Linked DNA regions of Homo sapiens: all the other regions are linked to region 1. Evidence: fine-mapped expression QTL. A gene starts in region 1. Each other region holds a variant in brackets. All regions are shown on one strand. Distances are between the middles of the regions.

Region 1 (7,929 bases):
TCCTCTTTAAAAAGGCATTCCCTGAGCCTGGTGGAATGAGACAAACATGGAAATCCCTGGGCTGCTCTCAGTGGTGGAAGAGGTTGGGCACCCTGGCGGCTTAGGGTGGGACTCGGCCTGCAGAGCCAAGCAGGCGCCCTTTTTCCTCCTTTTCTTTTCCTTTCGTCCATTTAATTTTTAAAATATAACAGACTGTGGCCGGGCACAGTAGCTCTCGTCTGTAATCCCAGCACTTTGGGAGGCCCAGATGGGAGGATCACTTGAGCCCAGGGGTTTGACATCAGCCTGGGCAACATGAGGAAACCCCATCTCTACAAAAAGTATAAACCTTAGCTGGGTGTTGCAGCACACGCCTGTGGTCCTAGCTACTTGGGAGGCTGAGGTGAGAGGATCGCTTGAGCCTGGGAGGTGGAGACTGCAGTAAGCTATGATCATGCCACTGCACTCCAGCCTGGGCCACAGAGCCACAGCATGTCTCAAAAAACAAAAAAGTGACAGACTGCAAACAAAGGCACACCTGGGTAGAGGATGCACAGGAGCTCCTTGCACTATCCCTGCAAACCACCTTTAGGTTTGAAAATAGATAAAAATAAAAAGTTACAAAAAAGTAATCATCTATTTTAAACATCCAGAAAAGTATAGAGAATAATATAACATCCCTGTCCACACCATCTAGCCTTAATGGTATCTCAACATTCCCCCTTTTTTTACAAGTCTTTTAACTTTTTTAAAGAAAGAAGATTTCACAAATAGAGTTTAAGCCCCTAGACATAGTTCCAAAGCTGTTCAGCTTGTCCACCCAGACAGAGAATCACAGTTCTGGATGAAGCATGCACTCTCCCCCAGCATGTTCTTCTACTTTACTTACACAGTATCCATGCATCTACACACATGACTCACGGTGTCCATGTATCTGCACACACATGACTCATGGTGTCCATGTATCTGCACACACAAGGCGGTGTCCATGTATCTGCACACGAGACTCACGTCCGTGTATCTGCACACATGAGTCACGGTGTCCATGTATCTGCACACACGAGACGGTGTCCATGTATCTGCACACGAGACTCACGTCCGTGTATCTGCACACATGACTCAACGTGTCCGTGTATCTGCACACAGGACTCACGGTGTCCGTGTATCTGCACACAGGACTCACGGTGTCCGTGTATCTGCAAACATGACTCATGGTGTCCGTGTAATCACCTCCTACTGTTTCATCATATCCTATAACCAGTTTCTCAGCTTCCATTCTGCTATCCTACAACTACTCTCCAGTAATCCTATGTGTAGGACCCTCCAATAACCCCCACATCACTCGGAGCAAAGGCCAGAGGCCCTGCGGCTCACCCCTGATGTCCTCCACCTGGTCCCCACAAGCCTCTGGCACCCTGGTCTCCTTGCTGCTCCCCCTGGGCCTGGATGGCTCCACCCCAGGGCCTTTGCATGGAGGTTCCTTTTCCTCAGACCCTCTGCCCCAGATGTCTGGGTGAGCAACCACCTCCACGCCCTCAAGCTTGGTCTTCAACATCACCTGTCAACAAGCTCTCTTTTCACTACTTAAAAACCACAGCTCCCTCCCTCTCCCACACTATACTTTCTATTTTGTTTCTTTACCTCTCTTTCCTTTTTCTGTGGCCTGCATTACCTGGCTGTGTATGTATGTATGTGTGTATGTGTGTGTATGTATAAGTGTGTATGTGTGTGTATGTGCATGTGTGTGCATGTATGTGTGCATGTGTATGTGTGTGCATGTGTGTATGCATGCATGTGTGTATGTATATGTGCATATGTGCATGTATGCACGTATAAGTGTGTATGTATGCATGTGTGTATGTATGTGTATGTATGTGTGCGTGTATGTATGCACACATGTATGCATGTGTGTATGTGCATGTATGTATGCGTGCATGTATGTATGCACACATGCATGCATGTGTGTATGTATGCATGTGTATATATGCATGTGTGTGTATGTGTGTATGTGCATGCATGTGTGTATGTCTGCATGTGTGTATGTGTATATGTGTGTGTGTATTCCATAGCATGTTGCCCTCTGACATGCTGTGCATTTTTCTTGTTTATTGTATTATTATTCATGGCCTCACTTCCCCACCAGGATCCTTGTTTACGTTGCTCATTGATACATCCCAAGTACCTGGAACAGTGTCTGGTATATCGCGGATGTTTAGTAAGTCTTGAGAGGCTCACTGAGTGAACAGTGTTAATTTTCATGGTTTAAAACTTTATATAAATGGTACCATACTCGCTGCCGTACTTGCTGTCGTACTCGCTGCCGTACTGTGCACTTGCATTTTTGCTCCGCGTTCTGTTTTTGGCATTTATCCACATTGATCCATGTAGCTCTCATTTATTTTAACTGCCATGTGGTATTTCGCTGTATATGCCCATTTCTTTATCGCTTCTCCCCGTGTTGGATATTCAGGGTGTGTCCGGTGCTTTGGACACACAGTGTTGTGAGGAATATTCTGTACGCATCTTCTAGCACATGCATACTTCTTGTGGTAGTTTCTCTCTCACAGTGGATGGCCTATTAGAATGACTAGGGAATTCTTAGCTATTAGTTTGTTCCCAGAAGTTCTGGTTCAATTGATCTGGTCTGGGTTCAGTGCTGCAGAAATGTTTTTTCTTTTAAAGACATTCCTGGATGACTTTAACGACAGCCGGGGTTGAGAACCACGGCTCCTGGCTCGAAGGAGCAGATCTATGTTTGTGTTCTTGGGCATATCTAGAAAGAGATATGCTTTCTTTCTGGCTTGTCATCTACTTGCTTCAATTTTCCTAAAGGTTGCTTTCAAAGTGGTGGCACCATGCGTGATCCCAGCGGTGAATGCAGATTCCCACGTTTTCATTAACATTCTTTAAGTTGTTTGACCCTTGGGGTTTTCTGATAGGATGAGGGTGAAACGCATCCTCTTGTTCCCACAGCGTTCCCCTAATTCCGGGGGCTGAGTTTATTGATCGTTCAAGCATCTTCTTTTGTGACGGGACCGCTGATGTCCTTGACTCAAAGATGTTAAAAATACGTTTAGAAGGATCTTTATTTTTTCCTGCTGCTGTACGAGGCACCCTTTCTGGCCCCGTGTTTCCTTGCCCTTCTTTCCAGCAGCAGATTTTACTCAGAACAACTTCAGTGCTGTGGACACAAAGACGCAGGCCTTGGAGAGGCGGGTCAGCCCTGCCTCGGGGCTGCTGAGTGAGGTGCCAGATGCGTTTGTTCCTCATTTACTCATTTGCGTTTGTTCCTCATTTACTCGTTCCTCGCAGACTGGGTTGTAACACCATGTACCACCCTCTGAACCCAGAGATCAAGGGCTGGCTGGCCCTGTAGCCCCAAGGAGCTCCGTCACCGGCCAATGGGGAGGCGAACCCGTGGTGACCCACTCAGCGGCACCGCCAAGGGCTGAGCGTGGCGCCAGCGGCGGAAGGCCCGGGGTCACCGTCCCAGGCCGGGGCTCCGACCCCGAGTCCGCAGGGTCCTCTCCAGGCACCTTCCATCTGGGGTCTGGCTTCCACTCCCGGCCGCGGCGTCCTGATTTCCAGAAACCAGGCGGCCGCTGGAGGGGAGAAGGGGGAGCGGGCGCAGCGGGGGAGGGAGGAGAAGAAACGCCGGAGAAGGGAGAGTAGAGCGAGGAAGGACGCGAGGCGGGCGGAGCGCGGGGAGGTGCAGGGGGCGGGGAAGGGGCGGCGCCGCGAGGGCGGCTCCTGGCGGCGGGACTGTGGCTGTGGCCCCGGGAGAGCCGGGTGGGGCCTCGGGATGCAGCCGCCGGTGCCCGGGCCCCTGGGCCTGCTGGACCCCGCAGGTGAGCGCGGGGCTGGGGGCTCGTCTCGGCTCCTGCGGGGGAGCGTGGGGACCCCGGGGCTGGGACTACAGGTCCCCGGCCGGCCCGGGCGGAACCTGCGCGGAGACGCGGCACGGGGTCTGGTCCCTCCGCCTCCTTCGAGCTCTGTCTTTGGAACACTTTGCATTTCGCACTGGGGTCGGGCGTTCGTCCTACCGGTTCGTTCATTCATTCTCTCTCCCTGTCTCTCTCTCTGTCTCTGTCTCTGTCTCTCTCGCTCTTTCTGTCTCTGCCTCCTCAGTCTTTGCCTTTCTCTGACTCTGTGTCCGTTCCTCTTGGCCTCTCTCTCCCTGTTACGTTTTATTATGAGGAACAGGCGCCCCAAAGTGCGCTCCTTCCCCATCTCTTCCGTTTATTCCAACCTACACCATTTTCCGGGAAAACTTCGTTTGGAAGAGCGAGGTAGCCTTTTCCTGTTTGAACGTGCAGAGGCGCTCACAGAACTGGACAGTGTTGCTTGGTTTCGGCTCGCCCCTCTCTCGTGTTTCTCCCCGGTGTGTTCACGGAATCTCCAATTCTTCCACTTCCCAGACCAAGCCCGCTGCAGCCTCGGAGCCAGGCAAAGGCTGGGAAAACAGGAAACCTGTTGCGTGTTCACCAGTTCGCAAGCCGGGCTCGGGGGCTCTGCCGGGAAGTGGCCAGGACTGGAAGGATGCCGGGTGTCTTCCTGAGGGGGAGAGGGCTGGGCAGATTTCAGAACAAAAGAGAAACAGAGTTCCCTAGAAAGTGAAGCCCTGACGGCTGGAGGGAGGGATGGAGTGGTGTCTAGGGGGCTCTGCCGCTCCCTCAGAAATAATCCAACACAAACTTCTGGGGATTAACCTCACAACCCTTTTACTGCGGCATCGTTCGGAACCGGACGAATTACTGTTACTTAAAATAATCAAATAATTTGGCTTCTTTCTAAAAGAAACCACTATATGCCTTCCAATCTAAAGCAAAATGCTCTATGGTCAAATGTATTAATGTGGATTAGTCTATTGGTGTTTAATAATGATAACTATTATTATTATTTATTAACTAGTTTTATCATTATTAGAATGCCTTAATGTTTAAAAATAGCATCTGACTTAGATTTTCTTCTGACAAAGAACTTTAAACCTTAAAACAATACTTGGAGCTGGTCTTTTTAGTATATGAAACATTGGTGTATCTGGGTAGGATTATGGGTCTTTTTGTTTGGAGCTGGTCTTTTACTAAAATGTATAAAGCATTGGTGTGTCTGGGGTTGGATTATGGTCTTTCTGCTTTGGTGTGTCGGGGTGGATTATGGTCTTTCTGCTTTGGGGTATCTGGGGGTGGGTTATGGTCTTTCTGCTTTGGGGTATCTGGGGGTGGATTATGGTCTTTCTGCTTTGGGGTATCTGGGGGTGGATTATGGTCTTTCTGCTTTGGTGTGTCTGGGGGTGGATTATGGTCTTTCTGCTTTGGGGTATCGGGGGTGGGTTATGGTCTTTCTGCTTTGGGGTATCTGGGGGTGGATTATGGTCTTTCTGCTTTGGTGTGCCTGGGGGTGGATTATGGTCTTTCTGCTTTGGTGTGTCTGGGGGTGGGTTATGGTCTTTCTGCTTTGGTGTGTCTGGAGGTAGATTGTGGGTTTTTCTGCTTTGGGGTATCTGGGGGTGGACCATAGTCTTTCTGCTTTGGGGTACCTGGGGGTAGGATTATGGGTTTTTCTGCTTTGCCCTTCTTTGTTCACTACCCTGGGCATGTGTAAAATCAGGACGAAAGAGGAATTGACGGCTGAGTGATTACAGTTTTACCTGGGATTGTTACTTGGACACCATGACTGGTGTCCCCACATGATTAAATGGAACTCACTCTTCTTTTTGGGCGTTCCAGGTCCGGCTGGCAGGAAGGCCGGATCTTAGAACCCTTCCAAGCAGTGCCACCTCCCATGCTTTGTGACATTCCCCTTCCTGGCTCTGTGGAGTAGAGGAAATGGGTCTGAGGGGCAGGAAGAACCTGACCTCCAGCCTCGCGTGTCTTCCAGGTAGGACCTGGCGTGGGCACAGGCTCATGTGGTTCAGCTCCTCCAGCTAAGGCTGGGGAAGGAGCCAGGAAGGGGAGAGCAGGTGGGATGGGAGAAGTGGGGGCTGGTGGGGAGTGACAAGGTGATATTCTGAGATATCCTAGATGGGCTGCACCTGGGGAAGACTAGAATTAGAAAAATCAGCGCACTTGATAGCAGAGAGGTAGCTGTTGGCCCCTTCAGCTTCACATCTCAGAACTCCTCCTTGCAACTCCAGTGGGAGAAATGCTGGTTAAGAATAGCCGCTACGCCGTCTTAAAGTTCACACCACCCTGATGATTAGCATATGCATTCCATTTACAAAAACCTATATGAGAGCCCACGTATCGTGTCTCACTGGACGCTTATCACAATCTCAAGAGGTGGGTGAGCAGGTGGTTCTCATGATTTCCATCCTACAGGTCAGGAGACTGAAGTGCCTTCATTCATTCCGTACCAGGAGATGTGTCTATGTCCTCATCTGAGCCCCGGGAACCGGCGACAAACAAGAGACAGAGCTCTTGGCTCTCATAGGGTTCTCTTCTCCCAGGCTCAGGGAGATTAAATGGCCGCCCAAGACCACACAATGGGTCTGGACAGACCCAGAATGGTTTGGGTCCAGTCCCTGTAAGCTGCCTCTGCAATAGAAACCTATTGGTAGATATTTTAATTAATAGTTGGGGCACTTAGGAGCACTTTAATTTTCACAGTGCGTGTAATAACAGTATTTCCGGGACAGGAAAAAAAAAAAAATCAAGGAAATTATTCAGGTGATTTTAATTATCTTTCTCCTAAGTGAAAGCCCCTTTCTCTTGAAAATCTGACCTTATAATTATCTCTTATGCTAATTATAAAGATATCCCACCTTCTTTTCTTGAGTTTATTTTTTTTCTCATTTTTATGCTGTGTCATGTATTTATAGAATGTGTTTAAGGTTGGGAGTCTTCTTTTTGTTATCTCTATTATATCTGGAGTCAAAATATCACCATTGTGTAATTGAATGAGATGATTTGCAACCATTGCTCCCAGTGCCCCATGTAAGTTCTACTGTCTTTCTAGACTTGTATAATCTAGGAATCTGTGATAGGAATGCTGATAAAAGGGTGGCTCATACCTTCTGCTTTTTATTTTGTAGCAGATGGGGGGGAAGTTAGACTCAGGAAAGAGGGGTAAACATAGCAAAGTTAGGTTGAAAATGGTTTGTAGGAGGATTTACGTGGTTTCAGAGGAGATGTGTCTAACTCTTCGCATAGTAATTAACAAGTCAGCATGTTACCGATTGACTTGACAAGGTCAGTTAGCCCAGTGGGTCTTGCTGGGCCCCCACTCTTCATGCCAAGGAACCGAGCAGAGCTTCCAGCTTTAAGAACCAGAATCCAGTCACAGGGTTCCTGACAGACGGACGCCCACAGGAGGCTGGGACAGGAGCCCCACGGAAGGTTCTACCTGTGGGTCGAAGCAGACGCTGAGTCATCTGGTTAACTATTTTGAGCATAATATTATATGCATGCAGTGCATTTAATTAAGAAAAATCGCACAACAAAATCCTTTGAGAAGGACAGCGTTTGTCTGATAATTTTCTCAAATACTTAGTCCCATAAAATTTAGTTTTAGAAATTGTATTGCTCTTAAAATACATTTAAACAGTCAAAAGATTGGAATGGGAGCCTAAGGAAAAGCAGGAAAGGCTGAAGCGGGAATTGTGTGAGTTGAAGGCACCTAGCATTTGGCTGCATTGGCAGGTGTTACATGGAGGCTGGTGAGGGTGACCTGGAGCCTCTGGTCATGATCAAATGAGATAAGGAAGTTAGGCTGCTCTGAAAATCGACACACAGCCCAATCCATAGATGGTGTTATTATCATCAATATGATTATTTTGTGTAATTCCACAATAGCTGTTTCATTAACTTCCAAAATGTGGAATTGCATATATTTTTAAATTTTGTGTCCATTTTTAAAAAGTTTACCTACCTTTCTAAAACGAATCAACCAGAACGGAGTTTCACCCACGGGAGGTGCCTGCCTTCCTCTTGCCCACTTGCTCCCAGCGTG
Region 2 (7,929 bases), 52 kb after region 1:
AGATCCACTTCATCCCCATGGTGCTCCATCCTCATCCACCCTGGGGCTCTGGGTTTACGCAAAGGGTGGATGTTCCCCTCTTCCTCTGGGGAGGCCTGGGGCCCTCAGATGGCCCAGCCAGCCTTTGTGCCAGGCCAGCATGTGTGGGAGCTTAATATACGCACGCTGATAATTGGATTTCAGAGATGGCAAATCAGATGAGGCTCATGTGCTCCTCAGAAGAACAATGGAGGAGGGGCCCTGCTTCCACAGAGATGGAGAGAAAATATTCAGGGTGTTCCATGGAAGTCGTTAGCAGCAGAAAATACTCCCACTTGAGACAGTGGGGGATGGGGAACAGTGACTTGGTGGGGGAGGTTTTGAGCAGTTAATAAAAAGGACAATTTAAAGAGATCACCTTCCTTGCACCCAGCAGCTTTGCCAGGCATGAAGTGCAGGGGAGGACGTGGCATCACAGCAGAAGATGAGTTCCTGCCCCGTTACTAAGAAACATGCCCTCCCTTCCCCTGTGAGATTACTCGTGGGCAGGGCTTGTCCCTAGGGGGGCCCTGTCATTCAGTGGTTAACCCCGTGGTCCCAGGGTTTACTCTGTGGTTCCTGGGGGTTTATTCCATGGTTCCTGGCGGTTTACTCCATGTTCCTGGGGGTTTACTTTGTGGTCCTGGGGGGTTTACTCCATGGTTCCTGGGGTGTTTACTCCGTGGTTCCTGGGAGTTTACTCCATGGTTCCAGGGGTATTTATTCCGTGGTTCCTGGGTGGTTACTCTGTGATTCCTGAGGGTTTAACTCTGTGGTTACTGGGGGTTTACTTCGTGGCTCCTAGGGGTTTGTTCTGTGGTTCCTGGGGGTTTACTCCGTGGTTCTTTGGGGTTTAACTCTGTGGTTTCTGGCGGTGTAACTCTGTGGTTCCTGGGGGGGGGGTTACTCCATGTTTCCTGGGGGTTTACTCCGTGGTTCCTGGGGGTTTACTCCTTGGTTCTTGGGGATTTATGCTGTGGTTCCTGGGGGTTTGCTCCATGGTTCCTGGGGGTTTACTCTGTGGTTCTTGGGGATTTATGCTGTGGTTTCTGGGGGTTTACCTCTGTGGTTCCTGGGGAGATTACTCTGGTTCCTGGGGCTTTACTCCATGGTTCCTCGGGGTTTACTCTGTGGTTTTTGGGGGGAGGTTATGCTGTGTTTCCTGGGGGTTTACTCTGTGGTTCCTGGGGGTTTACTCCATGGTTCCCGGGGGCTTAACTCTGTGGTTCCTGGGGGGAGGGGTTACTCTGTGGTTCCTGGGAGTTTACTCTGTGGTTCCTGGATGTTTACTCCATGGTCCTGGGGGTTTACTCCATGGTTCTTGGGGATTTATGCTGTGGTTCCTGGGGGTTTACTCTGTGGTTCCTGGGGGTTTAACTCTGGTTCCTGGGGGTTTACTCTGTGGTTCCTGGGGGTTTACTCCATGGTTCCCGGGGGTTTAACTCTGTGGTTCCTGGGGGGAGGGGTTACTCTGTGGTTCCTGGGAGTTTACTCTGTGGTTCCTGGATGTTTACTCCATGGTTCTTGGGGATTTATGCTGTGGTTCCTGGGGGTTTACTCTGTGGTTCCTGGGGGTTTAACTCTGGTTCCTGGGGGTTTACTCTGTGGTTCCTGGGGGTTTACTCCATGGTTCCCGGGGGTTTAACTCTGTGGTTCCTGGGGGGAGGGGTTACTCTGTGGTTCCTGGGGGGAGGGGTTTACTCCGTGGTTCCTGAGAGTTTACTCCATGGTTCCTGGGGGTTTACTCCGTGGTTCCTGAGTTTTACTCCGTGGTTCCTGGGGGTTTACTCCGTGGTTCCTGAGTTTTACTCCATGGTTCACTCGGTGGTTCCTAGGGAGTTACTCCATGGGTTCCTGGGGTTTATCTGTGGTCCTGGGGTTTACCCCTTAGTTTCCTTAACTGCTCATCTGCTGTGAAGAAGAGTGGGTGCTACAGAGTTGGAAGTTGGGAGCTCCCAGCAGACTTGAGAGAATGTTCCCTAGTGTCTCACTCTGTCGCCTGTGGCCAGAAACCTGTGTGAGTTTCGGGGGAAGAAAGAAATGAGGTTGGCAGGTGTCCCTGAACCACTGGATCCCATGAGCCTGGGCTGTCAACCTCAACATTGCAGTCCCTCTGAGGAAGGGCCCCATTCTCAGCCTTACCTACACCTGTGCAGAAATTCTGCTGTCAGGATCCAGAGGTCCTGCTAGCTCCCAGGGCGTCTGCAGTGCAGAGCTCTCCAGGGAGAGGCTCAGACAGGCAGCTGGCTTCTCTGGGGATGCTGAACACGCAGGCTCAGACAGGCAGCTGGCTTCTCATGGGACCCTGCAGGCTGGGGCAAGAGGAGCACAGAGCACATCTGGTAGCTTGGAGTTTGAAAAACTCTTCCTGTGTTATTTCTTAGAAGGAGTTTGTTTGCTTTATTTATTTAAAATTTGATTAGAAGTTCCCCCTAGAATTTAAGGGGAAAAAAAGAAAAGAATTAAGATGTGTGTTAGCAGTTGGAGAAAAACTAGAATGTATCAATTTAAAATCTGTGCCGTTCTTCGCTTTTCTGGTCTCAGAATTACTTGGGTGGGTCTATGTGTGTTAGTCAGGGCTCTCTAGGGAAGCAGAGCCTATGGGAGAATACAGGTACCTACATATGAAGAGAGAGATCAATCCATCGATTCTGAATGACTGGCTGATGACTGTGGGCTTCAGGTGCACAACCACAGGGAGGGGGCAGGCTGGAGACCAGGGAGGGTGACGCTGCCCCGGGAGTGCCTAGGCCACTGGGGCAGAGTCCACTTCTCCTGGGGACCACAGCCTCTTTCCTTAACGCCTTCAGTGGAGAGGAGGGGCCGTCCGTGTCCAGGGGCTGAGGCACTGTACGCAAGGGTGTCAATCACACCTGAAGATGCCTCCACGGCAACACCCAGATGCGTGTGTGAGCCGCTGAGTCAGCCACGGTGACACTGAACCAGCCACACGCTGCTGGACGTGTGGACGTGTGGGGTTCATACGTGGGGCCTTTCCCAAATATGAAGAGTTGGGTGAGCCCAGGGGCCCCAGGCCTGGTGGACCCTAACTGTTGGTTTTGGAGTCAGGTCAGAGGCTCGCTGGCTGTGAGGAAG[T/C]GGGATGTGGTCTGAGGACACCCTTCCTGGGGCGTCCACCCCCTGCCCCATGCAGCTGTGGAGGCCAAGGTTGTGCCAGTGAGGCCCCGGCCACCCTCTCCTGTTCTGCCCCGGGCTGGGGCTGCTCCTTCTGGTGGCCCTGGGTCTGTGGGGTGGGGGCCCGTGAGAGTGGTCCTGGGTCTGTGGGGTGGGGGCCAGTGAGAGAGGTCCTGGATCTGTGGGGGGGGCCGGTGAGAGAGGTCCTGGGTCTGTGGGGTGGGGGCCCGTGACAGTGGTCCTGGGTCTGTGGGGGCCCGTGAGAGTGGGCCTGGGCCTGTGGGGGGGCCGGTGAGAGTGGTCCTGGGTCTGTGGGGTGGGGGCCGGTGAGAGAGGTCCTGGGTCTGCGGTGGGGGAGGGGGACGTAAGAGTGGCCCTGGGTCTCCGGGGGAGGGGAGGGGCGTGAGAGTGGCCCTGGGTCTGTGGGAGCCCGTGTGAATAGCCCTGGGTCTGTGGGGGGCCCGTGTGAATAGCCCTGGGTCTGCGGGGGGCCCTGTGTGAGTGGCCCTAGGTCTGAGGGGGCCTGTGTGAATAGCCCTGGGTCTGCGGGGGGCCCATGTGAATGGCCCTGAGTCTGCGGGTGGCCCTGGGTTGGCGGGGTGGGTGGGGAGCGTGTGAGTGGCCCTGGTATATGTCAGGCTTCCCTGTGGTCCGGCACGGGGTGGTCTCACCTGCTAACCCAGGGCCCTCTCTGTTTATTGCAGCCCTGCAGCCGCTTCCCAGTTGCGCCCTCCTCTGCCCTGGCTTCGTCTGAGGACCTGCAGCCCCCTTCTCCAAGCAGCTCTGGCTCTGGGCTTCCCGGCCAGGCTCCACCGTGCTACGCACCCACCTACTTTCCCCCGGGGGAGAAGCCACCCCCCTACGCACCCTGATAGAGGCGTGGAGTAAAAGATAACTTGTTTGTTTTTTTTTTTAAAAAAAAGGCAGCCTCTAGAAATCCCGCTTCTGTGGCCAACCTCCTAGAGAACCCGGGAGAATGTTCCAGAAGTCTGTCCCCTCCTTTCCTCCCTGGGCACACTGGTGAGGGAGGCTGGAACCAGGCAGGGAGTGGGGCCCTCCAGACCCAGGCTGGTGACACCTTGGCTTGGGCTCTGCTCACATCAAATGGCGCTGAAAGTTCCCACCCGGCCTCCTCCTCTGAGAGCAATTGTTCTGGTGTTTTCACATCCCTTAATTAATTAGCTATTATTATGATTTTGCAAAGACAGTGCAGCCCCGGCCTCCCTGCCTGTGTGTTCTTGTTTGTGGACATGTGTTGTGCGTTACACGTTCGTGTGTGCATCTGTGTCCTGGAGAAGCGCAGGGCAGAAGCCACCCGCCCCTCGTGCTGTGCTCCTGACGTATGCCAGGAAGGGAAGGACGCTTCGGCTCCAACGCCCAGCGCTGTGTCTAACCGCCTGTGAGTTGTTAGAATCCAGGGGCCCGGTTGTCTTTCCCAGCCCCGGATGCAAATCTGCCTGGGCCACTGGCACGAGGGTCTTCCCCTGAGCTGTCTCCCAGCTACGGCGCCTGGGCTTCCGCTGTCCTTCCGCGGCTTCTCCCTCACCGCACCTTGTCTCAGGACCCCTGGCCGCTGGGATGGTGGGGGACGGTGTTTCGGGGTCCTTTGGCTCAGGGTCTGGGGCCGCAGCACTCCCTGTGGAAACCAGCTTAGCTCCCCGCGGGCCCAGCATGCACCTGCCGGGCACACCTGGGGAGACGGGTGAGCACGCCTGGGAAGCAGCAGGTCCCGGGTGGGTCACAGGCCCCGGGTGGGTCACAGGACAGGTCTCAGGTGGGTCACAGGTCCTGAGTGGGTCACAGGTCCCGGGTGGGTCACAGGCATCCCGGGTGGGTCACAGGTCCCGAGTGGGTCACAGGCCCCGGGTGAGTCACAGGCCCCGGGTGAGTCACGGGTCCCGGGTGGGTCACGGGTCCCGGGTGGGTCACGGGCCCCGGGTGGGTCACGGGTCCCGGGTGGGTCACGGGTCCCGAGTGGGTCACGGGTCCCGGGTGGGTCACAGGCGCCCCAGTGACAGGAGTTCAGGATGCGCCACCCCAAAGTAGCCGAAGTCTCTTGAAAAGTGTTGGATGTGGGGAGAGGCTTTCTCTGAACTCCTGAAGTCAGATCCTCAGGGAACCAGGGACTCCCAGGGCGGGAGGGCGGGCGAGAGGTGATCCCATTGCTCCCCAGACGTGCCACAAGACACCAAGTCGCCGTCTCTGCTCTGTGGGCCGCTCACGGTTCCCCAGTCACTCCCTCTCCCCTCGGAAGCTGGCGCCTCCAGGCCTCACCGCTCTCAGGGCCTCACGTCCCTCCCTGCAAAGCCCCCCGTGCCTACGATAAACAAGTACCGCTCTTCTCCCGTGTGGGTCTGAGGTCTCCAGCTTACTTCACGGAACAGTGCCCACCTGGGAGGTGGAGCGGGGACTTTCTCCCCTGCCCAGTCCTGGATCTGGGAGAAAAAAGATAAGGTGGAGGGGAGCCACACTCGTGCAGACACAGCCTCCTGCCCCCTCTGCTGCCCGGGAGCCTCCCTCTGTCCGATGGAGGGTCTCACACAGCCTCTGCCCCCTCCGCTGCCCGGGAGCCTCCCTCTGCCCGACGGAGGGTCTCATCCTGTGTCCAGCGCTCCTGGGCAGAAGGCCCACAGCGCACATCCACACATGAACGGTGGCTGGCTGGGCCCAGGGGCCCTAACGGGCCTCTGAAAGGCCTGCAGCCAGCTCTGGTCTGTGAACCCGCCACTGCTTGTCATTTTTATCTTATAAAATCCAGCCTCACAAGCTTGCTGTCCAGGAGAATGTGGTCTTGGCCTCTCAGGGCTGACTGGCCTTGAACCAGTCCGGGAGGTCGGGCACGAGCCGGAGGTGCGGCGTCCTGTCTGGAAATCACCGCCCAGTTCCTCCAGGGCTGTGGGTGCCTGGCTCCGAGTAAGAAGCTGAACAAGCAGCAGAGACCAAGAGGTTTCTGGAGCGCCGGGAGATGCACTCACGAGCGCCTGTGGGGGAAGAAAAGTGTGCCACGGATTTCCCGAGTCCCCAGGGCTCTCACTTTACCTCAGGGAAGGCTCTATGGGCGCCGATGGTGCCGTGGTCTTGTGTGGGCGGTTCCTGGGCACCCTGGAGCTCGGGCTGTGCCCCCGAAGCTGCCTGGTGCAGGCACCAGCACCTCTTGGTGTCCTAGGGGTGCGAACAGCAGAGAAGCTGAACTGCAGGTCTGGGCAGGGAGTCTATGCCCCCTGGAGCTCTGGCCAGCAAAGTCACAGGAATAACCCTCCTTCCCCTCATGTCAGCCCTCGGTCGCAGGGTGCGGTGTGGGGGCATCAGAGTGCTTCCCCGAGGCTGCACTCACCAGCTTCCCCCAAACACAACATCGATCTTTCCCGACTTTTAATCTTGTCTAGAGTCAAAAGCTGTTCAAAAATATTCAACTCCAAGGTCAACAGTTTTGTTCTTGCCACAAAAATGTCCTTATCCTTTATCCCAGCCACAAAGAATGTGAACAATTTGACTCAAGGTTCGTGGTGGCTGGAGGGTCCCCCAGGTCCCAGGGCAGCTCCCACCTGGCGCAGGGCTCCGGCCAATGCCTGGCCTGCAGTGTGGGCGGCGGCTGCTCTCGAGGTGCACCTGTCTCATGTGGACGGATCCTGTCTGGGGCCACCAAGCTCTGCCAGCCTGAGTCACGGTCTGATGAACCCCCTCTCTGGGCTCCGCTGGGGCCTTCTGATCCCAGCCTCCTCTGCAGGGATGGGCTCCCAATCCCGCCCTCACTTGGTTCCCATGCACAGCCGAGGTCAGTGAGACCCTGGAGGCCGCGGGAGATGGGGTGGAGGGGATGGTGGGGCAGGGGGTGCTGGGGGGTTTGGGGGTGCTGTGGCCCCGGGGCAGGGGGTGCTGGGGGGTTTGGGGTGCTGTGGCCCCACCTGCACTCCCTGCCTCACTGGGACAGCACAGGAGACAGGCTTCTCCTGCAGCTCAGAGGTGGGGGCCTAGTGTAGCTGCAGGTTGTGACTGAGGAGGGCAGGGTCAGAGCATTGCCCTGGGCAGGGGTCCGTTGAGACTGGCCCCACCTTATTAGCTTGGGACCTTGGGTTACAGGGAGTCTCCTCCTGCCTCAGTTTCTACATTTCACACAGCAGCACTGCTCACAAGAGCTCCCAAGCAGAGGCAACTACTGAGTGGGGGAGGGACACAGTCCGTCCACATGGGGCCAACGGCCACAAAGAGAGGAAGGGACATGGGTGACGGTCCGTCCACGTGGGGTCACCGGCCACGGAGAGAGGAAGGGACATGGGTGACGGTCCGTCCACGTGGGGTCACCGGCCACGGAGAGAGGAAGGGACATGGGTGACGGTCCGTCCACATGGGGTCACCGGCCACGGAGAGAGGAAGGGACATGGGTGATATGGTTTTGCTGTGTCCCCACCCAAATCTCAACTTGAATTGTATTTCCCAGAATTCCTGCGCGTTGTGGGAGGGACCCAGCGGGAGGTAATTGAATCATGGTGGCTGGTCTTTCCCGTGCTATTCTCGTGATAGTGAGTAAGTCTCACGAGATCTGACTGGTTGATCAGGATTTCCGCTTTTGCTTCTTCCTCATTTTCTCTTGCTCCTGCCGTGTAAGAAGTGCCTTTTGCCTCCCACCGTGATTCTGAGGCCTCCCCAACCATGTGCAATTGTAAGTCCCGTTAAACCTCTTTTTTTCCCAGTCTCGGGTATGTCCTTATTAGCAGTGTGAAAACAGAATACTACAGTGGTCCATCCACACGCGGGTCTCACCCAGCCACAGAGAGGGAG
Region 3 (7,929 bases), 40 kb after region 1:
CACACAGAGCACACAGCACACACACAACAGAGCACACAGCACACAACACACAGAGCACACAGCACACACACCAAAACAGAGCACATAGCACACACCACACAACACACAGAGCACACAGCACACACACAACAGAGCACACAGCACACACACAACAGAGCACACAGCACACACACCAAAACAGAGCACATAGCACACACCACACAACACACAGAGCACACAGCACACACACCATAAGAGTACACAGCACACAACACACAGAGCACACAGCACACACACAACACAGCACACAGCACACACCACACAACACACAGAGCACACAGCACATACACAACAGAGCACACAGCACACACACAACAGAGCACACAGCACACAACACACAGAGCACACAGCACACACACCATAACAGAGCACACAGCACACAACACACAGAGCACACAGCACACACACAACAGAGCACACAGCACACACCACACAACACACAGAGCACACAGCACACAACACACAGAGCACACAGCACACACACAACAGAGCACATAGCACACACCACACAACACACAGAGCACACAGCACACAACACACAGAGCACACAGCACACACACAACAGAGCACATAGCACACACCACAGAGTACACACCTCACACACCACACAGAGCACACGCCTCACACACCACACAGAGTACACACCTCACACACCACACAGAGCACATACCACACAGAGTACACACCTCACACCACACAGAGTACACACCTCACACCACACAGAGCACACACCTCACACACCACACAGAGCACACACCACACAGAGCACACACCACACAGAGTACACACCACACACACCACAGAGAGCACACACCACACACACTACACACACCACACAGAGCACACAGCACACACACCACACAGAGCACACACCACACACACATACACACCACACCACGCTCTTTTCACCTCTAAATGAACAGGTTTTCTCTAAAGTCGCAGGCCAAGGAATCGTTTCTGTGTCCTCCTGAGGTGCGTCCTCAGCCTCCGGTGGGCTGCGCCATCCCCCCTCCTCCCTGGCTGGGCTCCTGGGTGGGCTCTCGCCATCTGGGCGTCAGCTGGTCCCCGGGAGCAGCCGAATTGCTTGTCATGAACTCTCAGACCAAACCTGTGATTGTTTCTCCCTCTTTTTCCATAAATCACACTGAAAGGCACTGAAGGTTGGTGTTAGGCCTTTGTCTGCCCCAACGGTTTCATTATATGAAGGCAAGTGTGGGAGCACATTCACAAAACACACGTGCGTGCGCACGCATGCACACACCACGGCCCACATGCTCACACTCGCGCGCACACACACACTCCCACGGAGGTGCGTCATGGGAGCTTTCTCAGCGGGTGGCTGGGTGACTTGCTATTCTATGGCTTCCAGACGGTGGTTTCCACTGTGCTCCAGGCGCCCGTGGCCGTGGCCCCGCCGAGGAGCAGGGTCCAGTCTCTGACCGCAGTCGGGGGTGTCCCCAGGTTCCGGACCTCGGGCGCCTGTCCATTCTGGAGGGCCACGCGGGGCATGCATCTAGGCAAGTGTGGGAGCCTCTTGGTTAGAAACAAAGCAGGGCCCCTGGCCGGGGCCTCCCAGGGCTGACTTTAGGACGGATGCGCAGACAGCACTCACTGGAGCTCAGATGCCATCGAGGAAAATGTGGCACTGCCTCGTGTGCTGCTGAGGAAGAAGACAGATGGTGAATTACAGCTCTAAGGGCGTCATATGGGGAGATGCGTGCCTTCCAACTGTTGAGAGAGGCCGAGGACACCGTGCTGCTAGGCCTCTGTCCCCATGGGGTTCCGGCACACCGCCCTCCCTCCCAGCAGGAGCCTCTGTCCGTGGGGTTGGGGTGCACTGCCCTCTCTCCAGGAAGGAGCCTCTGTCCCCTTGGGCTACTCATTGTTACCTGTGGTCTCATGTCTGTCCCCTCAGGGGAAGATAAACACCCAGAGACAGAGACTTGTGTCTGCTTCCTCCATTGCTGTGTCACCTAGAACGCATCCGGCCATAATAGTACTTCACCAGTGGGGGCCCAAAGGACCGATGAGTGATTCTCATTCTCATCTGTTGCAGTGTTACTAGTGGTTTCTAATACTTTTCTTGGTTCAGAACTAGGAGCCTTTGAGAAATACTAATAAAACTAAACGTGGGCAATGTGACCCTAGCTTATTTGCAGGTGATGCAGTTTTGTGGCATTTTAGTTTTGGTACTTCCTGCTGTCCTCTACCATAGCAATTATAAGCACTTTGCAATGGTCAGTTTATGGGTCTGTCTTCTTCACTAGTCTATAAATCCCTTAAGGGCAAGAACTGTGTCTCGTTATCCTTACCATTTGGCACTGTGTCTGCTCCATGAATGTTGCAGATGGTCGGATGGATTGATAGTTGGATAGGGCCACAAATGGGTGTATGGCTGAATGGTTGGATGGATGGATAGAAGGATGGATAATGGGTGGATGACAGGAATGGATGGATGGGTGGATGTGGATGAATGGAAGTATGGATGATGGATGGATGGATAGAAGGATGGATGATGGATGGATGGATGGATGTGGATGAATGGAAGGATGGGTGATGGATGTGGATGGATAGAAGGATGGATGATGGATGGATAGATAGGAGGATGGATAACGGATGATGGATGGATGGTGGACAGATGGAAGGATGGAAGTATGGATGACAGATGGGTGAATGGATGGATGTGGATGAATAGAAGGATGGATAATGGATGGATGATGGATGATGGATGGACAAAAGGATGGATGACAGATGAATGGATGGGTGGATGTGGATGAATCGAAGGATGGATAATGGATGGATGATGGATGGATGGTTGGATGATGGTTGGATGGATGGATGTGGATGAATGGAAGGATGGATGATGGATGTGGATGGATAGAAGGATGGATGATGGATGGATACATAGAAGGAGGGATAATGGATGATGGATGGATGGATGGAAGGATGGATGACAGATGGGTGGATGGATGGATGTGGATGAATGGAAGGATGGATAATGGATGGATGATGGGTGGATGGATGGAAGGATGGATGGATACATGGATGGATGGATGGATGGATGAAGTATGGATGACAGATGGGTGGATGGATGGATGTGGATGAATGGAAGGATGGATGATGGATGCATTATGGATGAATGAATAGATAGATGTAGAGGATGGAAGGAAGAATGGGTGGATGCACAGATGATTGATTGGATGATTGGATGGATGGTTGGGTGGGTGGGTGGATGATTGGATGGTTGGAGGGATGAGTTTATTGGTCTGAAATCCTTCTTGCTACCTTCCTAGTAGAAGAGACAATATTTTCTTTTATGAAACGATGCAGGAGCCTAACACCTGTGATGTGGGGTGGTAGGGATGCCCCTCAAAAGGCCAAGCACCTGTCTCCCTTCTGCTGCCCTTGTTGACTGATGGAGAATATGCATGGCCCGAGGTACCCTCCCATGGGGCTTTCTGCTGTCTGGCCTCCTGGATGCAGCAGCCCAGCTGCTCTGCAGGGAGCGTGGAGTCTCCCATCTTGTGTTCTGTGTCTGGGAGGCTCAAGTTGGTGTTGGCCTTGGTCCTTGAGGCCCTGAGCCTGAGACCCACAGGCCTGAAATTGCCTCTGGCCTCTCCCGCCTGGAGGCACCTGTTTTATTCCATCTGTGTTTATCTGTTTCTCTAGGAACCGAGGCCCCTCACCACGGGAAGATGCCAGTTTTACTCCAGTGGGGTGGGGTACTTGTACGATGTCTACCAGACAGAGGTGAGCAGGAGCACTGAGATTCATGTGGGTTTTGCTCAGCTAACCCCGCCGACCCCACGCGGTTTTCCCTGCACATAGGCGTGGTCTGAATATTTTGATTCTAATAGTTCCTGGGGGTCACCCCTGCAGCTGGTGAACCGTTGATGCCCCCTGTGTTTGGGACCTTGACATTTCGATGTGCTGTATTTCACTCTGGAGTCAGAGTTCTGGACTTGCTTCATTAAATCACAACAGTCTCAGAGTGCACGTGTCCAGTTCTGTATGGCTCTTCCAATTAGCATTTTTCTAATTTAATTATTGCAATAAGAAGCAAGGATAATACATTTACAGTGTCCGAGAAACTTCTGGATTTCCCTGAGCCACCGACAGCGGCAGTGTGACCTCATTTCTCTTTCCAGGTGAGTGAGATGCGGGGAGTAATGACCCGCGGGCGGCCGCCGCCTTCGCCAGGACCGTCGGAGGGCACAGCTCTGTGACGGCGCTCTCTGTGTGTCTCGCACCTGCCCTGTGTGGATTCCTGGCTTTAACTAAACGCAGCCTCTCATCCTCAGCACGCGTGTCAGAGGAGGAGGAGCTGGAGGCCCTCTCAGTGGCCAGCACCTGCCAGCTTGTCTGGGACTCTCCAGCAGCTGCCGGGAGGCATCGTGTGTGTGTGTGTGTTTATGTGTGTGTGTGTG[G/T]GGGGGGGTAGGCAGGAGGCGTCCCGTGTGTGTTTAGGGGGGAGGTGTCCTGTGTGTGTATGTGTATGTGTGTGTGGAGGTGTCCTGTGTGTGTGTGTGGGGGGGGGTAGGCGGGAGGCATGCCATGTGTGTATGTGGGGGGGAGGCATCCTGTGTGTGTGTGTGTGGAGGTGTCCTGTGTGTGTGTGTCAGGGGAGGCGTCCTCTGTGTGTGTGTGTGTGTGTGTGTGTGTGTGTGTGTGTGTGTTGGGGGGTGTCCCCTGGCCAGGGCTTTCAAGGTTGTCACACAGAGGTGGCAGGTGTCTCTTCTGAGGCTGCCAGTGCTCAAGCCTGGGGGGAGAGCGCCCTGGGACGGGGCCTGTTCTGCCGCCCTCCGGGCTCTCAGGCTTCTGTGCACCCCACGCCGAAGGCCTCCTGGGCTCTGTCCTTCTGCCCACGCACCCTGATATTTCCCTCTGCTCCTGGGATCATGGAGAAGCAAGGCCTCTCCTCTGAGCCCCGATTATCCGGCCTCTGGGACCAGCCTGTGCCCCTGACCCCTCCTGCAGGAAGGGTCCTGGCCCCCGAGCCCCCAAGCCTCTGTGTCTGGAGTCGGGGGAAAGTCGGGGGAGGCAGCTGCTTGGCTGGGCCTCAGTGGCCGCTCCCAGCTCCCATGAGGCAGCCCTGCCCTTGGTGGGGTGGGTGAGGTGGTGGGCACCGGCATGTGACCTGACAAGGCCTCTCTGCCCCAGGTCACCTGTCACTCCCTGGACGGCAAGTGCCAGCTGAAGGTGAGAAGCAACACCTGTTACTGCTGTGACCTCTATGCCTGCGGGAGGTGAGGGGCACCGGGGACCCCCATATCTACACCTGCGGGAGGTGAGGGGCGCTGGGGACCCCCGTATCTACACCTGCGGGAGGTGAGGGGCGCTGGGGACCCCTATATCTACACCTGAGGGAGGTGAGGGGCGCTGGGAACCCCCGTATGTGCCTGCAGGGGTGAGGCCTCCATCCTTCTGCTCCTGACATCACCCCCCCCACACCCCTGCACCTACATCGTCTCCTTTACTCCTTAGATGTTTACATGAGGAAAGGACATTGAGTCCATTTCACAGATGAAAAGACAGAGGCTCTGAAATGTTGATCTGCCCAAGAGGACACAGCCCGTGTGTGTCGGGCGAGAGTTTAAACCTGGCCTGGCCTCTGAGGCCCCAGGCATGGCCCCCTCTTGGGACAGGGGCCCGTGACCCCGACGGCCTTCCCATCCTGGCGTGAAGACAGAGATGGCTCAGCCGGGGCCCAGACACCCGTCCTGCCAGGCCATCGAGGCGGAGGGGCGGGCCCGCCAGGCCCAGTTGCCGCTCTTTGCCACTGTGGGCCCCAGGTGGGGAGCCTCACAGGCCAATCCCATCAGACATAGGTTTGATCTCCCAGAGCAGTGCAGGGATGGGCGTTGACTGGGCTCCAGCCCTGATTTCCTCCCCCAGCCCTGCAGGGCTCAGGTCCAGAGGACACAAGTTTAACTTGCGGGTGGTCACTTGCCTCGTGCGGTGACGCCATGGTGCCCTCTCTGTGCAGCGCAGAGCCCTCGCCCGCCTACTATGAGTTCATCGGCGTCAGCGGCTGCCAGGACGTGCTGCACCTGTACCGCCTGCTCTGGGCCTCTGCAGTTCTGAACGTCCTGGGCCTGTTCCTGGGCATCATCACCGCCGCCGTCCTGGGGGCCTTCAAGGACATGGTGAGGCCCCTTGGTGGGACCCCCGCTGCTCACTGGGAGCCGGGGCTCCGGGTCCATTTCCCCGGGGTGGGCTGGGGGGCCTCCAGCCCTCACTTTACAGATGGGGCACTGAAGCCCATGCGTCTGTCAGCAGGGTGTCAGGGTGACAGCTGGCGTGCACCGACTCACCTCGGGGCCGTCCTGTCCCAAGCCTGTCACAAGAATCACCTGATTTAATCCTTGCCTCCCCGCTGAGGTGGGCACAGCCGTCCCCAAGAAACAATGTTCAGCTCCAAGAGGGAGGCCCAGCCCTTGTGCACTAAGCTCCCATCATTAGCAACTGCCTGGGGCTTCAGATGGGCAGGTCTGGGCTGGGGCTGAGCTGATGCCTTAGCAAACCCCAGAGGCGAGACCCATACAGCCAGGATTGGCCTGGGCAGGAGGAGGGAGGGAAGGGGCCCCTCGCGGGAGGTGGGCTGGACCCATCCTGGAAAGGCCGGCCCTCGCCCGGGAAACCACAGGGAAATCACTGGCCCGGGCCGGATGTCCTCTCTCTTCTCCCTCCTCTGCCCTCTCCTGGCGCCTGTTTCAAACCAGATGTTCTCGTGGTGTGCGGCCAGCAAACCCCGCCCCCTGAACTTGCAGAGAAGCTGTAAGGGATGGGCAGCCAGGAGTGAGGGAGCCCCAACCCCCAGAGTATCCAAACGGCAGCCCAGGGACGAGGGGCGCCCCCTCTTGCACCCACATGAGGAGGCCTGGCAGCACCAGGCAGACGCACATCATGCAGGCCAGACCCGGCCCAGCGAGGCAGCGAAAACACTCCTGAGCGGCTTCTCCATGCCCTATTCGTCCCAGAGGCTGTCCATGACTAAAAATTAGCTCAGCTGGGAACCCTCCTGCCATCTGCTTCTCAGCTCCTCCTTTTCTCAACACTTTTGTGCTTCCAGACAAAACTGGTGAAGCTGAGAGTGACCCTGGCATCCCGAGGTCCAGCCCTCTGGCTCCCCACCCAGTGGCCCCCCAAGCCCCACCCTGGGCCCCCAGACGCCCGCACACCAACACAAGACAGGCACCTCCCAGGGGTCCTTGCTCTGTGGTGACAGCCGGCCGGCCCCTGCGGTGGGAGCGGGAGTCTGGGGTCGGGAAGGGTCTCTGCCGGGATCTCGCGGGCTCCGGGCGCCTTTGGCGTCTCCTCGGTGCAAGCTTCTCTGCCTCGGCAGCTCAGTGTCTCCTCTCAGCGGCCGTCCCAGGAGGAACTGCAGCCGGATTGTAGACAGGACACAGAAACGCTTGTCTGGTGCAGGCGCCATGCTCGCCACACAGGCCCGGGGTGTCCAGGGTTTTCCGGAAGGGGCTCGTGTGTTCATTAAAGCCCGTGATAAAATGCTGGAGTGCAGGATCAGGAACAGGTGATACCTCCAGGGCCAGCCCGCAATGCAGAGCCACACCGGCTCCAGGAAGTCTTCCTCGAACCCAAAGCTCAGGGCTGCAGAGCAAGGAGAGGACTTGCTAACCTTCACACCCACCAAGCAGGCCCTCTTGTGAGTTTAACTGATTTTGCCATTTAAACATTTTGTTAAGGAATGAAGATGCTTCCTTCATTCCTTAACATTCCAAGCTGGACGTGCCCTTCGTAGACGAGGGCAAATTACTTGTGATGGGTGCGTGGGAGGCACTTAACGTGCCGGCAAGGGCGGGCGGCTGAGCCAGCCTCTCAGGGGCCTCCTCCGCGTGTGACTCCGTGGCCCCCGTGTTCTCTGCTTTCTGT
Region 4 (7,929 bases), 67 kb after region 1:
AGCACGGCCAGCCTCTCCTGCAGCTGCGCGGCGCTCACCTCGCTCTGGCCCCTGGTGCCGTCCACCTCCAGGGTGGCCTCACCGTCCCTCAGCGAGACGGTGACCACGTGCTCTTGGCCGTCGCAGACCTTGATCTCCATTAGGGCCAAGGCCGTATGCTCCACGGCCAGGACCACCAGCTGCAGGAGACCGAGGTGTGGTCAGGGCCTGCCGGCCACCCCTACGTGAGCTGTTAGGTCCAAGCTGGTCCTCACAGCTGCTGGCCACCCCTACGCCGCACGCCTGTCTCCGTCCAGGGTTCCCTGCAGCCCTGGGTCTGGATGCTCGCTGACTGTGGATGACACCCCCACCCCACCTGGGGCTCAGCTTCTCTGCACGTAAAGCCAGGGGCCAGCCTGGGAGGCTGTGGGGGAACAAGTGTGGCCCCCAGGTTGGGTGTGAGAGGGTCAACCCCAGCCCCAGGCACCAGGCACACACAAGACCGAGGCTGCACTTGACCAGGAACTGGGGTGGCCCTGATGGGGACCCAGGACCCAGCCCTGCGGTGGCGGCCTCCCAGCCCGGTGGGCACTCACGCTGGCACCACAGCCCAGCAGCCCAGGGGTCGGCTGTTGCTACATAACAGCAGCTGTTTATTCCAGATGCTGAGATTGGGTCTGGCCCTGGTAACGAGCATTTGCATGAACCAAGCCTGTCTGTCGTATCCCAGCAAGCGGGAGGGCTCTGTGGCCCCGGGGTGGGCAGACTTGGAGAACGTGAGCCTCTCTGGTTTGACCCATGTCTCCCTCCTTAGCACACGAGCGAGAGAATAAAAGCTGTTTCTGTCACCTCTTGATTGTTCTGTGGGGAAAACAGCATGAGTCCCCCAGCCCAGGACAGCTGACTTATTGTGAGGACCGGGGGTGGGGGGACCTTGTCCAAGGGGCAGCTGCACTCAGCTCCACCCGGTGTCCCCCACGGAAAGACGCTGTTGGGGGACCGGCCAAGGTCACAGATCCGACTTTTCCAGGGAAATTGGAAAACTGAGTTTGTTGCTGAAATCATCTGACTTAAACACCAGAGACTAATTCAGATTGCTGTGAGCCACCATCTGCCCAACCGAACAGGGGAAAAGCTCCCACACTGTGAGCCGAGTGTGGCTCGCAGGCGCCGGCCCCCTCAGCTGTGTGGCGGTGACCTGGTGTCCAAACAACCCCCGCAGCCCGAAGCGTGGCCCACGCCGGGCTTGGCTCATCAGACCTCTGGTCAGAGGCTTTGGGGGTCCCTGGGGATCCCACCGCGGGCCCCCTTCGTCCCCTGCCAGGGAGTGCAGCCCACGTACCCGTGGGTCGAGCCGGTCAGGACGCCCTGGGTGGCGGAGGCCCTACCTGCTTCTTGAGTTTCTTCGTGGAGTGATAGTCTACCAGTGCCACAGAGAGAGGCACGGCACGGAGGTCGGGGGCCCAGAGCGCAAACAGCACGCCTGTGTCTGCGGCTGGGCGGATGTGAGCCACGACTTCTACTTCCCAGGTTGATTCAGTCCCGACGTCCAGAGGGGTCCGCACTGCAATGAAAGCGGTGCATTATAGGGTGGTATGCACGGTGGAGAGGCCACAGTGAGGTCGGAGCAGGGCCTCGAGAGATGCAGTCCCAGCCGGGGTGGGAAGCTGTGCAGACAGCCCCGGATCTGGGACGTGATGGAAAACTCAACAGACTGGTTCAGATCTTGGCCCGGAGCCCAGAGGCACCGGGGACCCCCAGGCTGTTTCTCCCTGGCCACACCAGTACCCCACTTCCAAATGCCCTGTAGGTGACCACCAGGCCACACAGGCCCGTCTGAGGGGCCACAGGCTGTGCACCATGGGACGCAGGCCTGTCCCTGCCTCCCTCCGATGTCCTCTTGTTTCAGGAGCGCCTGACAGCTCCTTCCTCAGAGCGTGCGTGGCCTCGTGCCTCGCATCTCACCTGCAGCTTTCAGGTAGCAGCACAGGGCCCAGTGGGGGCTGAGAGTTTAAGATAGCATGCGGACAGGAGCTGTCATGAGCACGGTGGTCTGGGGTCTGAGCTGTCAGGAGCACGCGCGGTCTGGGGTCTGAGCTGTCAGGAGCACCCGCGGTCTGAGTTCTGAGCTGTCAGGAGCACCGTGGTCTGGGGTCTGAGCTGTCGGGAGCACGCGTGGTCTGGGGTCTGAGCTGTCAGGAGCACCCGCGGTCTGGGGTCTGAGCTGTCGGGAGCACGCGCGGTCTGGGGTCTGAGCTGTCAGGAGCACCCGCGGTCTGGGGTCTGAGCTGTCGGGAGCACGCGCGGTCTGGGGTCTGAGCTGTCAGGAGCACCCGCGGTCTGGGGTCTGAGCTGTCGGGAGCACCTGCGGTCTGGGGTCTGAGCTGTCAGGAGCACGCGCGGTCTGGGGTCTGAGCTGTCAGGAGCACATGCGGTCTGGGGTCTGAGCTGTCGGGAACATGTGTGGTCTCCCAGGGAGAATGCCACGGCATATCCTCTCCACGCTGAGCCCTCCGTGGACTAAGAAGCCAGAAGAAAAAACTTCCGCCCTGTTTTCAGTGTTTCTATCTCACCCAGAATTCCAAAGTCCTGATAAAGAAGCTGTTTTAGGAAAAAGGACCCCAAATCACTGTGTGTACACATTTGTGACTGGGCGCCTCGCACTGCAGGCCAAGGTTGGGGTCAGAGTGAATTGTGCTGGTTTCCCTGTCTCTTTCCCACGGGGCTGTGTACGCCTGAAACCCACATCGCCTGTCCTGCCTGTCCCTAGCTGGTACCCGCCACATCAGTTCTCAACAACCATTTATGGCACCGAAACACACAAAATCAGAAAAAGTAACAAAAATATTGCAACAGAATCAAAAAGTAACAACAAAAAGTCTCCTGTTTGCCGGTCTTCCCATAACCTGTGAAGGGAGAGATGATGGTGTTCTTTAAAATGGAAGCTCCCAGTCGGGCGTGGTGGCTCACGCCTGTAATCCTAGCAATTTGGGAGGCTGAGGTGGGTGGATCACCTAAGGTCGGGAGTTCGAGACCAACCTGACCAACATGGAGAAACCCCATCTCTACTAAAAATGCAAAATTAGCTGGGTGTGGTGGTGCATGCCTGTAATCCCATCTACTCGGGAGGCTGAGGCAGGAGAATCGCTTGAACCTGGGAGGCGGAGGTTGTGGTATGAACCTGGGAGGTGGAGCCAAGATCGTGCCATTGTACTCCAGTGTGGGCAACAAAGGCGAAACTCCGTCTCAAAAAAAAAAAAAAAAAAAAAAAAGGAAGCTCCTGACAGGAGGCTAGGCACATGTTGGCCATCGGGGCTTCACAAGGGCACCGGCCTCTGCTCTCCCCGGGAAGGTTTCCCGGCTCCACGTGGCCCCTTGCATGGAGGCTGCACAGACCCGGAGATCTGCAAGCCTGAGCCCAGCAGAGTCGCTGCAGAGTGAGCCAGGCCAGTACTACCATTCCCAGCAAGTCTCCTCTGTCTTGTAAGAGACGTTACTGGTATAGTTTGAGATTCACTGGAAATGCATGGAGCTGTAACTGCTTCTGTCCGGATAGACCAAAAAGGGCCGGCAGACGCGGCCGGCAGTCACTGGAAATGGCCCCTGTGATGCCTGCATAAGGTTACCCCTGAGAAATGTGTATGATATTAAGTGGAAAAAGGATTTAAGCATTTCATATGACATGATTTCGTGTCAAACATTATGATGCTCTAGATTTGGAAGTCCAAAAATCAAGACTGAGGGAGAACGCGTGTGCACAGTCAGTCCAGCCAGTGGCAGATGGCGCTTTTCTCAGATGCCTTTCCTGACACGGTCACGCTTTTGACACC[C/CG]GGGGGGAGACGGTGACACTGGATCTGGCTCAGGACGGGGCAGGACCCTCCCCTTTGCTCCGCGTGGATCCCCTTGAACCTGGGGTTCCTGCTGGGTGCTTGAGGGCCGGCAGCCCTGAGATCTGACGGAGGGGGCGCTGCCTGCCCTCTGTGCGTGTGGGGGCTTCACCATAAACGGCTCGGTGTCCAGGAATAGGGCAGGGCTGTGGTGCCCCAGTGGGGCCCACGTGGGGTGGGAATGTGAGGCAGGGTGGGGCCGAGCAGTAACACTATCCTCACAGCAGCACCCCCGGAGCCTGCACTGGGGAGGGCGGCAGCGTGGCGTCACAGGACTGGGCCAGCAGCTCACATCCACCCTGTCCTCCCTTTTTCAGGCCTAGGTTCACTGTCCCCCAGGCAGCTTCACGGCTGTTTTTACACACCTCCCATTGTAGCTGTCTCACCGGGTCATCGGTGACCACGGTGTCCACCATGTTACCGAGAGCTTCTCTGTGCCCCTGGACGAGTCCTAAGGCTGTGCTGTCTCCGGACTTTCTGCAAAGGACCCTGTAAGGCTCCCAGCCTCCCCGGCCTCGCAGGCACCTTCTCTCCCCGGCCTCCCGGCGCTGGCCTCGCAGGCACCTTCTCTCCCCAGCCTCCCGGCGCCGGCCTCGCAGGCACCTTCTCTCCCCGGCCTCCCGGCGCCGGCCTCGCAGGCACCTTCTCTCCCCGGCCTCCCGGCGCCGGCCTCGCAGGCACCTTCTCTCCCCGGCCTCCCGGCGCTGGCCTCGCAGGCACCTTCTCTCCCCGGCCTCCCGGCGCCGGCCTCGCAGGCACCTTCTCTCCCCGGCCTCCTGGCGCCGGCCTCGCAGGCACCTTCTCTCCCCCGCCTCCTGGCGCCGGCCTCGCAGGCACCTTCTCTCCCCGGCCTCCTGGCACTGGCTTCGCAGGCACCTTCTCGGCACATCTCTCTCATTTCTTCTTCACTGGCTGACTCTGAACTGAGTGACCTGCATGGCCATCCTGAGAGGTGGGCCTCTGCCCGCACCTCCGCCCACCCCGCCCACCCATCCCTGCCCCGGAACCGGAGGAGCCTCAGCTTGTCCTGACGCTGCCATCTGAGGCCGTCTGCTTGCTTTCAGCGTATGCCTGTCTGAAGGTGCAGCCACAGCCACCCCAACGGTAAGAGCCAAGACTTACTGTAGTCCAGGCTGTAGAAGGCGAAGCCGCTCCCGGGGTAGAAAGAGCCTCTCTCCGTCACCGAGAAGCACTGCATCCTCGTGTTCACTTTCACCGTTTCCTGGATGGTGGTGTCTTCTCCGTTCAGCCAGTTCCAGCTCCTCATGCAGCCATCCAGACGAGGGTTTATCTGGAAAGGCAGAGAAATCTCCGTGGCTTCCTGGGAGCGAGAAGCCCCATGCCGGATGCCCCAGTCGGTGGGTGGCGCCTTCGCGGCCCTGGTATGTGCAGCTCTACGGCAGAAACGGGCCAGTCCCATCGGTGGTGGCCATTTCACAGAAGGTTTCTTCACTTTACACAACGCCTCACTGCAGAATACCTATTTCCACTGGTGTATGCTCAAGAACTAAAGGTTCATTTTAAAGCTAGGAAAGGACTGAAAAGGCCATGTGGGTCTAAGGTCAAAGAGTATGGATTGTTCAACCATCCAACACTCATGTGAATTATTCAATATTCAATATGGCTGTGGGCAAATCAGGGCAACCCCCTTATCTGTGAAACGAGGAGGGTCCAGCCAGGCAAAGTCCCGGCACCAGGCTGTCTGTGGGCCTGGGAAGCAGGTGCCCCTCACAACACCGAAGGTCCCGGCACCAGGCAGTCTGTGGGCCTGGGGAGCAGGTGCCCCTCACAACACTGAAGGGGTGGCTTCAGCACAGGCACTGCCGACACTCAGCACCCAAAGACGCGAAGACATGCGTGCCTTTCTCCTGCCTGGTGTGGAAGTGAAAATACCCAGGATGACGGCTTAGACGTCAGCACGTGGGGGCTGGAGACACAGGTCGGGGGCACGGGCGTGTGCTGTGCTGAAGGGGAGAGAAGGCGGGACCTGGAGCAATGGCCCACACTGACCGCCCATCATGGCTGTTTTCCCCTTATGAGACTCACGGCAGAGTTACAAAACCCAAAATGTTCTTGGAAATTGTCCAAAAAAGTTTACTGTTCTGTTAAAGAATAATTTCGGCCGGGCGCGGTGGCTCACGCCTGTAATCCCAGCACTTTGGGAGGCCGAGGTGGGCAGTTCACGAGGTCAGAAGATCGAGACCACGGCGAAACCCCGTCTCTACTAAAAATACAAAAAAATTAGCCGGACGTGGTGGCGGGCGCCTGTAGTCCCAGCTGCCTGGGAGGCTGAGGCAGGAGAATGGCGTGAACCCGGGAGGCGGAGCTTGCAGTGAGCCGAGATCGCGCCACTGCACTCCAGCCTGGGCAACAGAGCAAGACTCCGTCTCAAAAAAAATAATAATAATTTAATTGTGTCTTATCTCCATTGAAAAATAGACAACTTTATTATCAATTCAGATGAAAACTTAGGTCTCATAAAAAGAGATGGTAAAATTAATGACATAGCTGTACGGCGACTTTGTCAAACTCTAGGAAACCTTTCCTTCCTCTAGGTCCTCCTCACACCTGGTTAATGGTAAACACAGGGCAGGGTGTGACTGAGGCTTCCTGACACCGTTCCCGGGATCCCAGCACACGGCGCGTCTACACAGGGACAGGTACAGTACTCACAGGCTGCACGAGGTCCTTCTCATGGAAGGGAATACCTCCCACGGTCAGGTTCAGATGATACAGTCCTCGCTCCGGTTGGAACAAGTCCCCGGCCACCGCGATTTTCATGACAGCATCCCTGTTGACCTTGATGACCAGATTCCGCGCCAGCTCCTCAACAGAGATCTGAAGAGAGGCAGCGCCATGAGAAAAGATGGGAGTGCACGTTCTGAAGGGGCTCCCAACTGAGAAAAACCACACTCATCCTCTCCTGAGCCAAGAGGGTCCCGACCTCGGGGAGGCCACCTGATCCTCACCTGGGCCAAGAGGGTCCCAACCTCAGGGAGACCACCTGATCCTCCCCTGAGCCAAGAGGGTCCCGATCTCAGGGAGACCACCTGATCCTCCCCTGAGCCAAGAGGGTCCCGACCTCAGGGAGACCACCTGATCCTCCCCTGAGCCAAGAGGGTCCCGATCTCAGGGAGACCACCTGATCCTCACCTGGGCCAAGAGGGTCTCAATCTCAGGCAGACCACATGATCCTCACCTGGGCCAAGAGGGTCCCGATCTCAGGGAGGCCACCTGATCCTCACCTGGGCCAAGAGGGTCCCGACCTCAGGGAGACCACCTGATCCTCCCCTGAGCCAAGAGGGTCCCGATCTCAGGGAGACCACCTGATCCTCACCTGGGCCAAGAGGGTCTCAATCTCAGGCAGACCACATGATCCTCACCTGGGCCAAGAGGGTCCCAATCTCAGGGAGGCCACCTGATCCTCACCTGGGCGAAGAGGGTCCCAATCTCAGGGAGACCACCTGATCCTCACCTGGCCAAGAGGGACCTGACCTCAGGGAGACCACCTGATCCACACCTGAGCCAAGAAGGTCCCAATCTCAGGGACACCACCTGATCCTCACCTGGGCCAAGAGGGTCTCAATCTCAGGGAGACCACATGATCCTCACCTGGGCCAAGAGGGACCTGACCCGGGGAGACCACCTGATCCTCACCTGGGCCAAGAGGGTCCCAACTTCAGAGAGACCACCTGATCCACACCTGAGCCAAGAGGGTCCCAACCTCAGAGAGACCACCTGATCCTCACCTGAGCCATGAGGGACCTGATCTCAAGGAGACCATCTGATCCTCACCTGGGCCAAGAGGGACCTGACCTCAGGGAGTCCACCTGATCCTCACCTGGGCCAAGAGGGACCTGACCTCAGGGAGTCCACCTGATCCTCACCTGGGCCAAGAGGGTCCCAATCTCAGGGAGGCCACCTGATCCTCACCTGGGCCAAGAGGGACCTGACCTCGGGGAGACCACCTGATCCTCACCTGAGCCAAGAGGGTCCCAATCTCAGGGAGACCCCCTGATCCACACCTGAGCCAAGAAGGTCCCAATCTCAGGGAGACCACCTG

Alleles and levels. Positions count from the first base shown, and alleles are read on the strand shown. Sizes are in standard deviations (SD) of each study's normalised expression. Not every link is listed here.
For the expression in monocytes after triphosphate RNA of the gene that starts at base 3,738 in region 1, allele C in region 2 goes with a higher level than allele T (large effect, 0.77 SD a copy in Kim-Hellmuth 2017).
As copies of T replace G in region 3, the expression in iPS cells of the gene that starts at base 3,738 in region 1 goes up (moderate effect, 0.56 SD a copy in HipSci).

The links. PIP is the estimated chance that this variant, and not a neighbour inherited with it, causes the effect.
Region 2: its variant is fine-mapped to the expression of TMEM255B in monocytes after triphosphate RNA (Kim-Hellmuth 2017, PIP 0.95).
Region 3: its variant is fine-mapped to the expression of TMEM255B in iPS cells (HipSci, PIP 0.95).
Region 4: its variant is fine-mapped to the expression of TMEM255B in blood mononuclear cells (TOPMed, PIP 0.97).

Annotation. Positions count from the first base shown.
Region 1 is chr13:113,755,489-113,763,417 of GRCh38, forward strand. It overlaps TMEM255B (transmembrane protein 255B), which reads left to right and starts at 3,738. Exons shown (of 9, transcript NM_182614.4): 1 at 3,738-3,827. The coding sequence starts at 3,782. RefSeq lists enhancers at 2,898-3,399, 3,956-4,457.
Region 2 is chr13:113,807,882-113,815,810 of GRCh38, forward strand. It overlaps TMEM255B (transmembrane protein 255B), which reads left to right. Exons shown (of 9, transcript NM_182614.4): 9 at 3,855-7,929. The coding sequence ends at 4,022. GAS6-AS1 (GAS6 antisense RNA 1) reads left to right here and starts at 7,729. Exons shown (of 5, transcript NR_044995.2): 1 at 7,729-7,810. RefSeq lists enhancers at 7,613-7,682, 7,733-7,929. The variant T/C (reference allele first, on the strand shown) is at 3,115.
Region 3 is chr13:113,795,631-113,803,559 of GRCh38, forward strand. TMEM255B (transmembrane protein 255B) reads left to right here. Exons shown (of 9, transcript NM_182614.4): 5 at 3,709-3,789; 6 at 5,197-5,282; 7 at 6,023-6,182. Among named protein-coding and RNA genes, the nearest start is that of GAS6-AS1, 16 kb to the right of the region's middle. RefSeq lists an enhancer at 5,530-6,404. The variant G/T (reference allele first, on the strand shown) is at 4,467.
Region 4 is chr13:113,822,008-113,829,936 of GRCh38, forward strand. GAS6 (growth arrest specific 6) reads right to left here. Exons shown (of 15, transcript NM_000820.4): 11 at 6,540-6,704; 12 at 4,989-5,157; 13 at 1,368-1,543; 14 at 1-179. All of the region lies in intron 1 of GAS6-AS1 (GAS6 antisense RNA 1), which reads left to right. Among named protein-coding and RNA genes, the nearest start is that of GAS6-AS1, 10 kb to the left of the region's middle. RefSeq lists an enhancer at 1-233. The variant C/CG (reference allele first, on the strand shown) is at 3,810.